Regions from separate parts of the Homo sapiens genome. Here region 2 is linked to region 1. Evidence: fine-mapped expression QTL. A gene starts in region 1. The other region holds a variant in brackets. All regions are shown on one strand. Distances are between the middles of the regions. Region 1 holds the start of WTAP (WT1 associated protein). Region 2 overlaps MRPL18 (mitochondrial ribosomal protein L18).

Region 1 (5,379 bases):
TTCCCATTTTCCAGGATGAAAATGACTGTTAGTCATTAGGTGATCAGCTATTAGGTGATTAAAACAGCTATTAATTAATAAATTGGGGGTAAGGGTCTCAAATTTGGTGCCCCTCAAAAGGGTGGTAACATGATTGACTAGTTTTAAAATTACATAAAAGTTTCAGTTATTTATGTAGATAATTCAGAGATAATATATCTCAGAAAATCAGGACCACCATCTACTCTTGATGCCTTAACACAGAAAAACAGCTTAGTATGGAGTTCAGTCTAGACTGGTTAGGTGCCTAGCATCCCAGATCCCAGTACCTTCCTGGCTCTTAGCATCATAAAGTTAGGTAACTCAGTTCCCTCTGAACGGAGGCAAGCGCCAGCCAAAACAACTTCAGTAAGAAGACACGGTACCTTGGCGAACAAATCATAGCTGAATGTAAGACACCAATCTGCAGACACTGTAGTAGCAAGGTACTGATGAGGAACTGAAAGGCCATCTTTTCCTTATCCTCTATCTGCCATGTGTGATTCCAAGCAAGTCTTTTAACTCTTGCAGTTTCCAAGTCAGCAAAAAGATAATTTTGCCTGTCTCACAAAGTGCTGCAAATATTAATGCTTTCAGCACAATAAAAATGCTATAGATTTTTCAAATAAAATATGAACATAATATGAACATAAAAGGCAACTTCAATGTGCACTTAGAAAAGATTAAATTCTATTAACTACATCTTCAAAGGCAGAAAATATTTACAGCAATATATTTTAGTCAGATGGAACATCTTGTTATACACAATACACAATGAAGTTTACTATTGTGGAGATACTGAAAAGTTTTTCTGTGTTAAGCTTAGTAACTACAAGAAGCAAAATATTTAGAGGCAGAAAAGTTGGAGACAACTAAAAAAATTAAAAACAAGAATAAAACCAAAATACTATCTTCAGTCTTCTTTTGCTGAAGGACCTACTAACTAACGTACAATTTTGAGGAGCAAGAAGCAAATACATAATGATCAAAACTGCTAAACAATATATTCAAGGGGATTCAATACTACATACAAGACCATAAGAGACCTTGAACGCTTTAATGTACTGTACAAATTGTGACAATGCTCATCTCCACATCACAGGGCTTTTTACACATTGTGTTTCATCTCTACCAGCTTATTTCTGACAAACAATACACAAAAATATTTTCAGCAAACATGACTCAACGTTGAATTGGAAAAGCTAGACATAAAAGAGCCATGTAAAAATAAGCAGTGCCTGGGACACACTATTATTATTACTTTTATCCTTTAGGAGTTAGCAATTCTGGTAGCTTGTCCAAATTCTGCCAATGAAAAAGTACTAAAAATACTGAACTTTTAAACCATGTGTCTGCTTAAGATACCTTAACATATAAAAGCACTGTAAGAAACACACCTACCCAAACCCTTAAAATGTAACCTCAACCTTATCACAAGCCAGCTTTGCGGACTGCAATCTTTCCCCGACTTGGCTAATCAGATGCTACTTGAATGAATTAAAATGTATCCATCTTGAAAAGATTTTTCGCTCATAGTTTTAAATTACGGTTTTAAATGTCCACAACATGTTTATCTATCGTAGAAAACTTAATGGTCAAAATTTTAAAATCCAAAAAACGAGAACTTGCGATGGATCTATGACGTCCACTTATCTTCCGAAGCAATGGAATTAACTAAAACTAGATAAAATAGGCACAAATACAACTTCCAATTGTAACATACTCATAGAAGTATTTCCCTACCAGACTAAATAATAGTTTTTTTGTTTTGTTTTGTTTTTTTTACATAATCACAGTTATGCTAGTCCTTGATAATGTTAAGCTAATCCTTTGGGATCAAACAACCAAGTGACTTTCTTATCAAAACAAGAACTCGGGCTTTTCCATTACGTGTACACAGACTTATGAAAAACGGTGAAAAAAAAATCTAGTAACTGTCTCACAGGGATCCAAGGTAAGACTTGGATTTCACAAAAATCTGCAATAATTCAGTTTCTTTCCTCAGAATGCTTATACTCATTTAAAAATGGAAGTCTACAAGAGAACGTAGTAACATCCTACTGCGTGACATGAAATGTAGGGAACGAATGTTTCTTTTTTTCCTTGCTGAACTCGTTAGTGCCGCCAGGTCCTCAGGAGAGGCCCAAGGGAGGTGAAGGGGGCGACCCCGAGGCGAGGAAAAAACGAGCGCCGCCGCTCAGCCCGGGGAGGGCATCCTCCGGCCTCCGTGAGTGGCCGGTCTCTCCGGCCGCCAGAGCACCCCTCTCAACCCGGGCCTTGGGGACGGAGGACAGAGATAAAATGGCCTCGAAGCGGCGGAAGTGTTCCCCGCAGGCGGGAAGGTAGAGCGGCTCACGAGAGACCGGTGCCGCACCAGGCCCGTGTGGCCTTTCGGGCCCTGCCCGCCCCTTACCCGCCGGGGGCGGCTGCGCATCAGCCCTCAGGCCCCGGAGGTCCCCCGCGTCCGCTCCCGCCAGCCGGCCCGCGCCTACCTCTCCAGGCAGAAGCCGCGCCGGCGCCACCGGTCGCATAGGCCGAGGCCGCGCTGCTTGCCCTGCCGCCCGGGCCCCCCGGGCCACCGCGCAGCCGGACAGCTCTGCCGCCGGCCCCGCCGCGCTCCTAGTCCCGCCGCAACCCCTGCGCTCCCCTTTATTTGTGGGTCTCGCTGCCACAAAATGGCGCTGAGGGAGGAAACCAGGCCCCGCCGCCCGGCCCCGCCCCGCCGCACGGCTCCGCTCCGCCCTGCCCCGCCCCACAGCCGGTCCGAACGCGCCGCAGGCCAGCGCCACTGCCTCCCGCCTCCCGCCTCCCGCCTCCCGCCAGCCTCCCCGCTCCGCCATGTTCGCCTTCTGGCCCACTCACAGGAGAGTCGCCTTTCAGGCGTGGCCGCAGTCACTCGCCCGCCGCCGAACCCCGCCAGGAGAGGAAAGGTGAAGGGAGGGAGGCCGTCGGCCTAGCCCGATCGGGGCCTCGAGGCACAATGGAGCAGCTGCTCCCCGGTAACACTCCCCGTCCTTTCCCAGGAGCCTGGCGCGAGCTCCGCGGGCCCCGGAGCTCAGCAAGCTCAGTAAGGGAAGCGGCCGAGGGGAGGGGCGGGCCAGCGAGGTCGGAGGTCAGCCCCAGGGCATCACGGGAAGGGAAGGTGGAAGTACTCGCCGGGGCCACCTGCGGCTGCGGGGCTGCCTCGTGCGGAGGGATCTGGGCGAAGGCGGCGCGTGATTGGCCGCTCTGTGTTCGTGACGCTCATCCGTGATGCTTCCGCGTGTCGGAGGACCAGGTGCCACCTCAAGAGAGAGGCCGTGGGCGGCGAGCCGCGGGCGTTTACTCTTAGCAGAAGCTCACCTGTAAGTTTTGAGAACTTAGAAACCGATGCCTTCCCTCTCATCAGTCGTGAGGCGCAGTCTCCTGGCCGCTGGGTTCGTTCCTCCTTGACATCTCTGGAGACGCATCGAGGAGCTATTGTTCTCTGGCGTCGGAGGTTGCGCTGTGTCCGCGGCGTTGAGGGCCCCTTGCTAACTGGAACACGGGGAAGGCGGCCCTGTGAGGTTTAGTGAACTCAATCAAAGAGGTCCTGCAAGTGGAGTAGACTCCCTGAAGTAAGACTGCCATCTGGACCGCCGAGTAATGGCGGTGTTACCTGGAGAACGTGAAACAGTCTCTAAACACTTACTAGAAGAGCACGTAATTCTTTTGATTGGTCTGTCCTTAGCCGGCTTTATCAAACCTGTTCATCCCCAAAGGAGTGTCTTGTAGTAAGGTGATTTATTAGGATAAGATTAAAGTACATTCCAGATGGTCGTAGTATATTTCCAGTGAATCAGATCGGTCTGGAGAAAATCTTTGCAACTCGTATCACAAGAGCTCTCAAAAATTGAAAACAAAAAGTGCAAAAGCCAAAGGAGAAAATGGGGAAGGACATGAACAGATGATTCTCAGAAAAAATACCGTAATGGTCTTTAAACATAGAAAGTCGCTCCACCTCACTTACAATGGAAATACACGTTGAAATTACCTTTCCTGGTGGGAGTGGAAAAATGGTTCAAGTTCCACGGAGTACAAAATTACTTGTGTTTATTCTTATACCTTGCAGTTATACTTCTAACCCTAACCTTATTCTGAAGGTGCAGCTCCACACATGGAAACAATAGGTATACAAGGTTATTGCAGTGCTATTTGTCATAGCAAAAGTTAGGGATAACCCAAATATCCGTTAATAGGGAACTGATTGGGAATGGTGCATCCATACAGTAGAACACAATGCAACCATTAAAAAGATTCAGGAAATAATCGTGTGTTGCTTTGGAATGAGTCTCAGGTTGTATTAAGTATTCACTTAAATATTTAAGTGTAGTAAGTATTCACTGTATTCAAAAGCAAAAATAAGCATATATGCTTTTATGTATTTACTTAAATACATAAAAATATATATTTATATTTAATATGAATATTTATGTGTATATGCTTATTTTCGGGGAGGAATTGGAAGGATATCCTGGAAACTTAACATTTTTAGTTGCCTATAAAGAGTGGGGGGTGGAGACAAGATTTCTCTGTCTTTGAACTTTTAGTTTTACATAGCCAAAAAAGTAAATAAAAAAGGAAACAAAGTAAATCCTAAGGTTGAAAGCAAATTGAAACAAATGAACTTAACTGTTAACTAATATAACTAAGATACACAGAAAAAATAATTATTCTTTGGGTTTTTTTTTTTTTTTTTGAGACAGTCTCACTGTGTTGCCCAGGCTGGAGTGCAGTGGTGCAATCTCAGCTCACTGCAACCTCTGTCTCCTGGGTTCAAGCGATTCTCTCAGCTCAGCCTCCTGAATAGCTGGGATTACAGGCATGCGCCACCATCCCCTGCTGATTTTTGTATTTTTAATAGAGATGGGATTTCACCATGTTGGCCAGGCTGGTCTGGAACTCCTGACCTCAGGTGATCCGCCTGCAGGTTGGCCTCCCAAAGTGCTGGGATTACAGGAATGAACCACCACCACTGGCCCCTCTGAGCTTTTGAACACAGTACTCTAGTAGTGTATCTGTGTTGTGATAGTGTAGTCTTTCCTTATATGCAGGAGATTGGATTTAGGACCTTCTGCGAGCATATACAGAAATCTGCATACTAAAGTCCCGGAGCTGAGCATAGGGAAAGTTGGTTCTTTGTGTAGGTGTGTTTTGCATCCCACTGTACTTCTGTTTTGTTTTCTTCCTTCCTTCCCTTTCCTTTCTTTTTCTTTTCTTTTTTTCTTTCTCTCCCTCTCTTCTTCCCTCCCTTCTTCCCTCCCTCCCTCTCTTCCCCCCTCCCTTCCTTCCCTTCTCTTGCTTTTCTTTTTTTTTTTCTTTTTTGAGAACAGGGTCTGACTC
Region 2 (5,379 bases), 68 kb before region 1:
AACTACAAATAATATTCCACTGCAACATTATTGCTGTAAAACTTCCAAGCTGGCTGTTCTTCCAGATGCTCTCTTTTGATGGCTGTAGTGGCTGACAGATTTATATTTACATGTTCAAAACAATTAATGCTTCCATTTATTCATAGATTCTCTGAGGTTCCCGTAGAACCACACCACCTTCTGTCATGGCACTTTGTAGTCGTTTCATCTGGTTTTGAAAATCAGAAAAAAAAGGAAAAGATTAAGTCAGCAGCACGAGTAGGCTGAAAATACTTTCACCTTCCAAAAGACAGAAATAAATTGATTTGTTCTTGCTAACTTCCCAGCCTACAACGGTTTTTCAGAAAGTGATCTTAATAATGATGTAAGTAAAAAGGAAATGTAGAGATGTCAAGGTTCAGCAGCATTTCAAAATATTATATGGACAAGATGTCAATATATGAACAGGAAATACAGTGGCTGACATCATGGACTACAGAATCAGTCACCCTGGGTTTGAAATCCACCATACACTGACTCTGGGCAAGTAAGCCTCAGTTTATTTCTGTATAGAATGAGAGTACTAGTCCCTACCCTATGGACTGATGTGAGGATTAAATGAAGTAACACTGTTGAGTACTCACCAAAGGGTCTGACACATGGAAAGTATTTGGTAAGTAAAAACTGTTATTATTATGTAAGTTATCTAATGCCAAGAATTAACACAATACCTTTTCAATAAGTACATGAAAACAAAAATACCGAGTCTGAGGCTGCCTCCCACGGGGTTGGTTGGTAGACCATGAAGTTGATTCCCGCCTCTAAGCATCTCTGTGCCAGCACTCGTCCTATACTCTCACAAGCCACCACATTTCTGGTACTATAAAGGTGCTTTTTAATAGCCCACTCACGAGTGGAGGCCGAAACCACAACCTTGCCATTCTGATGCTCCACAAGTGCTTCTACATGATGCTGAGTCCTTATAACTCGCAACCTAAATGGGGTGAGAAGATAATAAAATCACAGAAGAATCTGTATCCTAAAGTTACATTAATTGAGGTGAATAAATGACTAAATATTTTTCAACAATCCAGTGTTTGGTTCATTTACTTCAACATATTTAACTTGGATTTTGCTTGGGAAAAGTATTTTTCCTCCGCCTTTATGAGAATATCCTCAATAATAACAAACTAAATAGTTCAAGTATCATGAAGAAATTTGTTTCTGAAGAGCTGAGTTTTATTTACAGATCTACTTCAAAAAGAGATTTGAAGAGACAGAGCTAAGTTACTGAACATATGCATGACATGGATATACTTACTCTTTGCTTTTATTTATAGCTAGCACCAAAATAAATATAAGACGGAACAAAAATTTAAATGCAAAAACTGAAATCATAACAGTACTAGAAGAAAACATGAGAAATTTTTTTATAATCTCAAGGTATGCATATTTAAATATGACATCAAACCATGTCATATGGCTTTTATTATTTTTCAGAAACAGGGTCTCACTGTCACCCAGCTCGGAGTACAGCAGTGCAACCACAGCTCACTGTAGCCTCAAACCCCTAGGCTCAAGCAACCCTCCTGCCTTAGTCTCCCAAGTAGTTGGCATTACAGGTGCATGCCACTGCACCAAGATAATTTTTATTTTGTAGAGACAGGGTCTCCCTATGTTGCCAAGGCTGGTGTCAAACTCCTGGCCTCAAGCGACCCACCCTTCTCAACCTCCCAAAGCACTGGGATTACAGGCATGAGCCACTGTGTCCAGCTTCATATGGCCATTTTTTTTTTTTTTTGAGACAGGGTCTGCCTCTGTCTCTCAGGCTAGAGTACAGAGGCACGAACTTGGCTCACAGCAGCCTCTGCCTCCTGGGATCAAGTCATCCTTCCACCTCAACCTCCCAAGTGGCTGGGACTACAGGCGCATGCCACTGCACCCAGCTAATTTTTGTATTTTTTTGTAGAGACAGGGTTTGCCATATTGCCCAGGCTCGTCTCAAACTCCTAAGCTCAAGCAGTCTACCCACCTCAGCCTCCTAATGTGCTGGGGTTACAGGCTGAGCCACCATGCCCAGCCCCTCATATGGCATAAAAAAGAAATGATGGACAAAATTTGCTGCATGGTTAAAAAAAAAAAAAAAAAAAAA[G/AG]TAAAATGAAGTCAAAAGAAAAGCAATGAAACAAAAAATATTTTAGGCTGGGCATGTGACTCAAGCTTGTAATCCCAGCACTTTGGAAGGCTGAGGCAGGAGGACTGCTAGAGCCAAGGAGTTCAAGACCAGCCCAGGCAACACAGTGACACTCTGTCTCTACAAAAAATAGAAAAAATCAGCCAGGCGTGATGGTGTGCACCTGTAGTCCCAGCTACTTGGGAGGCTGAGGTGGGAAGATTGTTTGAGCCCAGGAGGTTGTGGCTGCAGTGAGCCGTGATAATGCCCTGCACTCCAGCCTGGGTGACAGAGTGAAACCCTGTCACAAAAATATAAAAAGAAAAAATATTTTAAACTCATATATTGTTCAAAGAGCTAATTTACACAATATGTTAAAAGCCTCCTATAATTAACAAGAAAATGATCAATAACTTGTGGGGAAAAGCAAGAGATCAGATTGTTACTGTCTGTGTAGAAAGAAGTAGACATAGGAGACTCCATTTTGTTCTGTACTAAGAAAAATTCTTCTGCCTTGAGATTCTGTTAATCTATGACCTTACCCCCAACCCCCTGCTCTCTGAAATACGTGCTGTGTCAAACTCAGGGTTAAATGGATTAAGGGTTGTGCAAGATGTGCTTTGTTAAACAGATGCTTGAAGGCAGCATGCTCGTTAAGAGTCATCACCACTCCCTAATCTCAAGTACCCAGGGACACAAACACTGCGGAAGGCCGCAGGGACCTCTGCCTAGGAAAGCCAGGTATTGTCCAAGGTTTCTCCCCATGTGATAGACTGAAATATGGCCTCGTGGGAAGGGAAAGACCTGACCGTCCCCCAGCCTGACACCCGTAAAGGGTCTGTGCTGAGGAGGATTAGTATAAGAGGAAGGCATGCCTCTTGCACTTGAGACAAGAGGAAAGCATCTGTCTCCTGCCTGTCCCTGGGCAATGCACTGTCTCGGTATAAAACCCGATTGTACGTTCCATCTACTGAGTTAGGGAAAAACCGCCTTAGGGCTGGAGGTGGGACATGCGGGCAGCAATACTGCTTTGTAAAGCATTGAGATGTTTATGTGTATGCATATCTAAAAGCACAGCACTTGATTCTTTACTTTGTCTATGATGCAAAGACCTTTGTTCACATGTTTGTCTGCTAATCCTCTCCCCACTATTGTCTTGTGACCCTGACACATCCCCCTCTCAGAGAAACACCCACGAATGATCAATAAATACTAAGGGAACTCAGAGGCTGGCGGGATCCTCCATATGCTGAACGCTGGTTCCCTGGGTCCCCTTATTTCTTTCTCTATACTTTGTGTCTTTTTCTTTTCCAAGTCTCTCGTTCCACCTAACAAGAAACACCCACAGGTGAGGAGGGGCAACCCACCCCTTCATAACTTAATAGGCAAAGCATTATCCAAACAGACTGTTCACAGAAAAGAAAAATATTAATGACTCAAATTCACAAAAATATGCTCAATCTCACTAACAAAATGCATGGACAAGACAATTCGATGCAACACTGTAATCATAAAAGATAATCACCCTCTAGGAGCGAGTTAAGTAAAATCCATGCAATAGTATTCCATACAGTTACTGAAATGAATGAAATAATGCTTTATAATGATGAAGATAATAGTTAACATTTACTGAGCACTTAGTATATGCCAGGCCTGTCTTAACGGTTTATAGATAAAGCTTATGTCTCAATTCTATTATTTTTTCTATATTTTTTTTTAGCTGCAGAAACTAACACAGAAAGGTTAAGTAACTTGAAAAAGATTAAAACTAGTAAGTAATGGAGCCATGGTTTAAGTCCCAGTGTCTGGCTCCAGAGTCAATGCTCTTAACTACCATGAAGAATCTCCAAGATGTATTTTTAAGTGCGTGCTTGGGGTGGTTGAGGGTGGTGGTGAAGAAAGATGCGGAAGTGTTTATCGTATGCTAAGATTTATTGTTTTTAACAGTTTTTGCTTATATGCATAGACAATCTTTAGAAGGACACACAAGAAACTGTACTCCCTTTGGATTTTATAACATACGTATATGTTACCCTTTAAAAAGTCAAGTTTAAGTTAAAGAAAACACACCCAAATCATTAGATTCTCACTAGGATTCTCAATGTGAAATAGAAGAGGCATTAGATTTGGAAATATGGAGTCTACTCCTGGTTTTCCTGGTGGCTCTAGTAAAAAATCACAATCTCTTTTTTTTTTTTTGAGACGGAGTCTCAGTCTGTTGCCCAGGCTGGAGTGCAGTGGCGCGATCTCGGCTCACTGCAAGCTCCGCCTCCCAGGTTCACGCCACTCTCCTGTCTCAGCCTCCCTAGTAGCTGGGACTACAGGTGCCTGCCACCACGCCTGGCTAATTTTTTTGTGTATTTTTAGTAGAGACGGGGTTTCACCGTGTTAGCCAGGATGGTCTTGATCTCCTGACCTCGTGATCCGCCCGCCTCGACCTCCCAAAGTGCTGGGATTACAAACGTGAGCCACCGCGCCCGGCCAAAAATCACAATCTGTTAAACCAGGAGTCAACAATCTTTTTCCACAAAGTGCCAGATAGTAAATATTTTAGGCTTTCTAGGTCCAATAGCTTCTGTTGAAACTGTTCGACTCAGCCATTGTAGTGCTAGAACAGCCAGGTGATGCGTAAACAAATGAGAGTAGGTACAGCTAGGTTCTAAGAACCTGGGCAACGAAATTTGATTTTCATTTAATTTTCCCAAGCCACAAAATATTCTTTTGATTTTTTTTTTAACTTAAAAAAAGTAAAAACAAGTTTTTAGCTCACAATCTACCTTTGGCCCACGGGCCGTAGTTTGCTGACACTTGAACCATTTGTTCAATGAAGGGCCCGATTCATTATGTCAAAGGTCATTTCCTACTATAATATTCTGAAATTCTCTACTTTTAATATTGCGAGTAAGGCAGACAGAGAAAAAATGAGGAAATACATCTTTAGTTATTTTTAATGATCCAAATATTAAATCAAAGTAATGCGTTGGGGCCGAGTGCAGTGGCTCACGTCTGTAATCCCAGCACCTTGGGAGGCTGAATCAGGCAGATCTCTCGAGCTCAAGAGCTCGAGACCAGCCTGGGCAGCAGCAAAACCCCATCTCTACAAAAAATACCAGAAAAAAAAAAAAAGAAAAAGAAAAAAATTAGCCGGCCATGGTAGTGTGTGCCTGCAGTCCCAGATGCTCAGGAAGCTGAGATGGGAGAATCGTTTGAGCCTGGGAGGCAGAGGTTGC

Evidence for each region. PIP is the estimated chance that this variant, and not a neighbour inherited with it, causes the effect. A credible set is the group of variants that fine-mapping cannot tell apart.
Region 2: its variant is the best candidate, but not a certain one, in a credible set for the expression of WTAP in whole blood (INTERVAL, PIP 0.51).

What each region holds. Positions count from the first base shown.
Region 1 is chr6:159,724,835-159,730,213 of GRCh38, reverse strand. It overlaps WTAP (WT1 associated protein), which reads right to left and starts at 2,708. Exons shown (of 8, transcript NM_001270531.2): 1 at 2,511-2,708. It also overlaps a transcript of SOD2 not described here. RefSeq lists a silencer at 2,290-2,839 and enhancers at 2,302-2,899, 2,850-2,979, 3,330-3,419, 2,900-3,497.
Region 2 is chr6:159,792,881-159,798,259 of GRCh38, reverse strand. It overlaps MRPL18 (mitochondrial ribosomal protein L18), which reads right to left. Exons shown (of 4, transcript NM_014161.5): 3 at 742-973; 4 at 1-208. The coding sequence ends at 137. Among named protein-coding and RNA genes, the nearest start is that of PNLDC1, 4.7 kb to the left of the region's middle. RefSeq lists an enhancer at 2,422-3,293. The variant G/AG (reference allele first, on the strand shown) is at 2,132.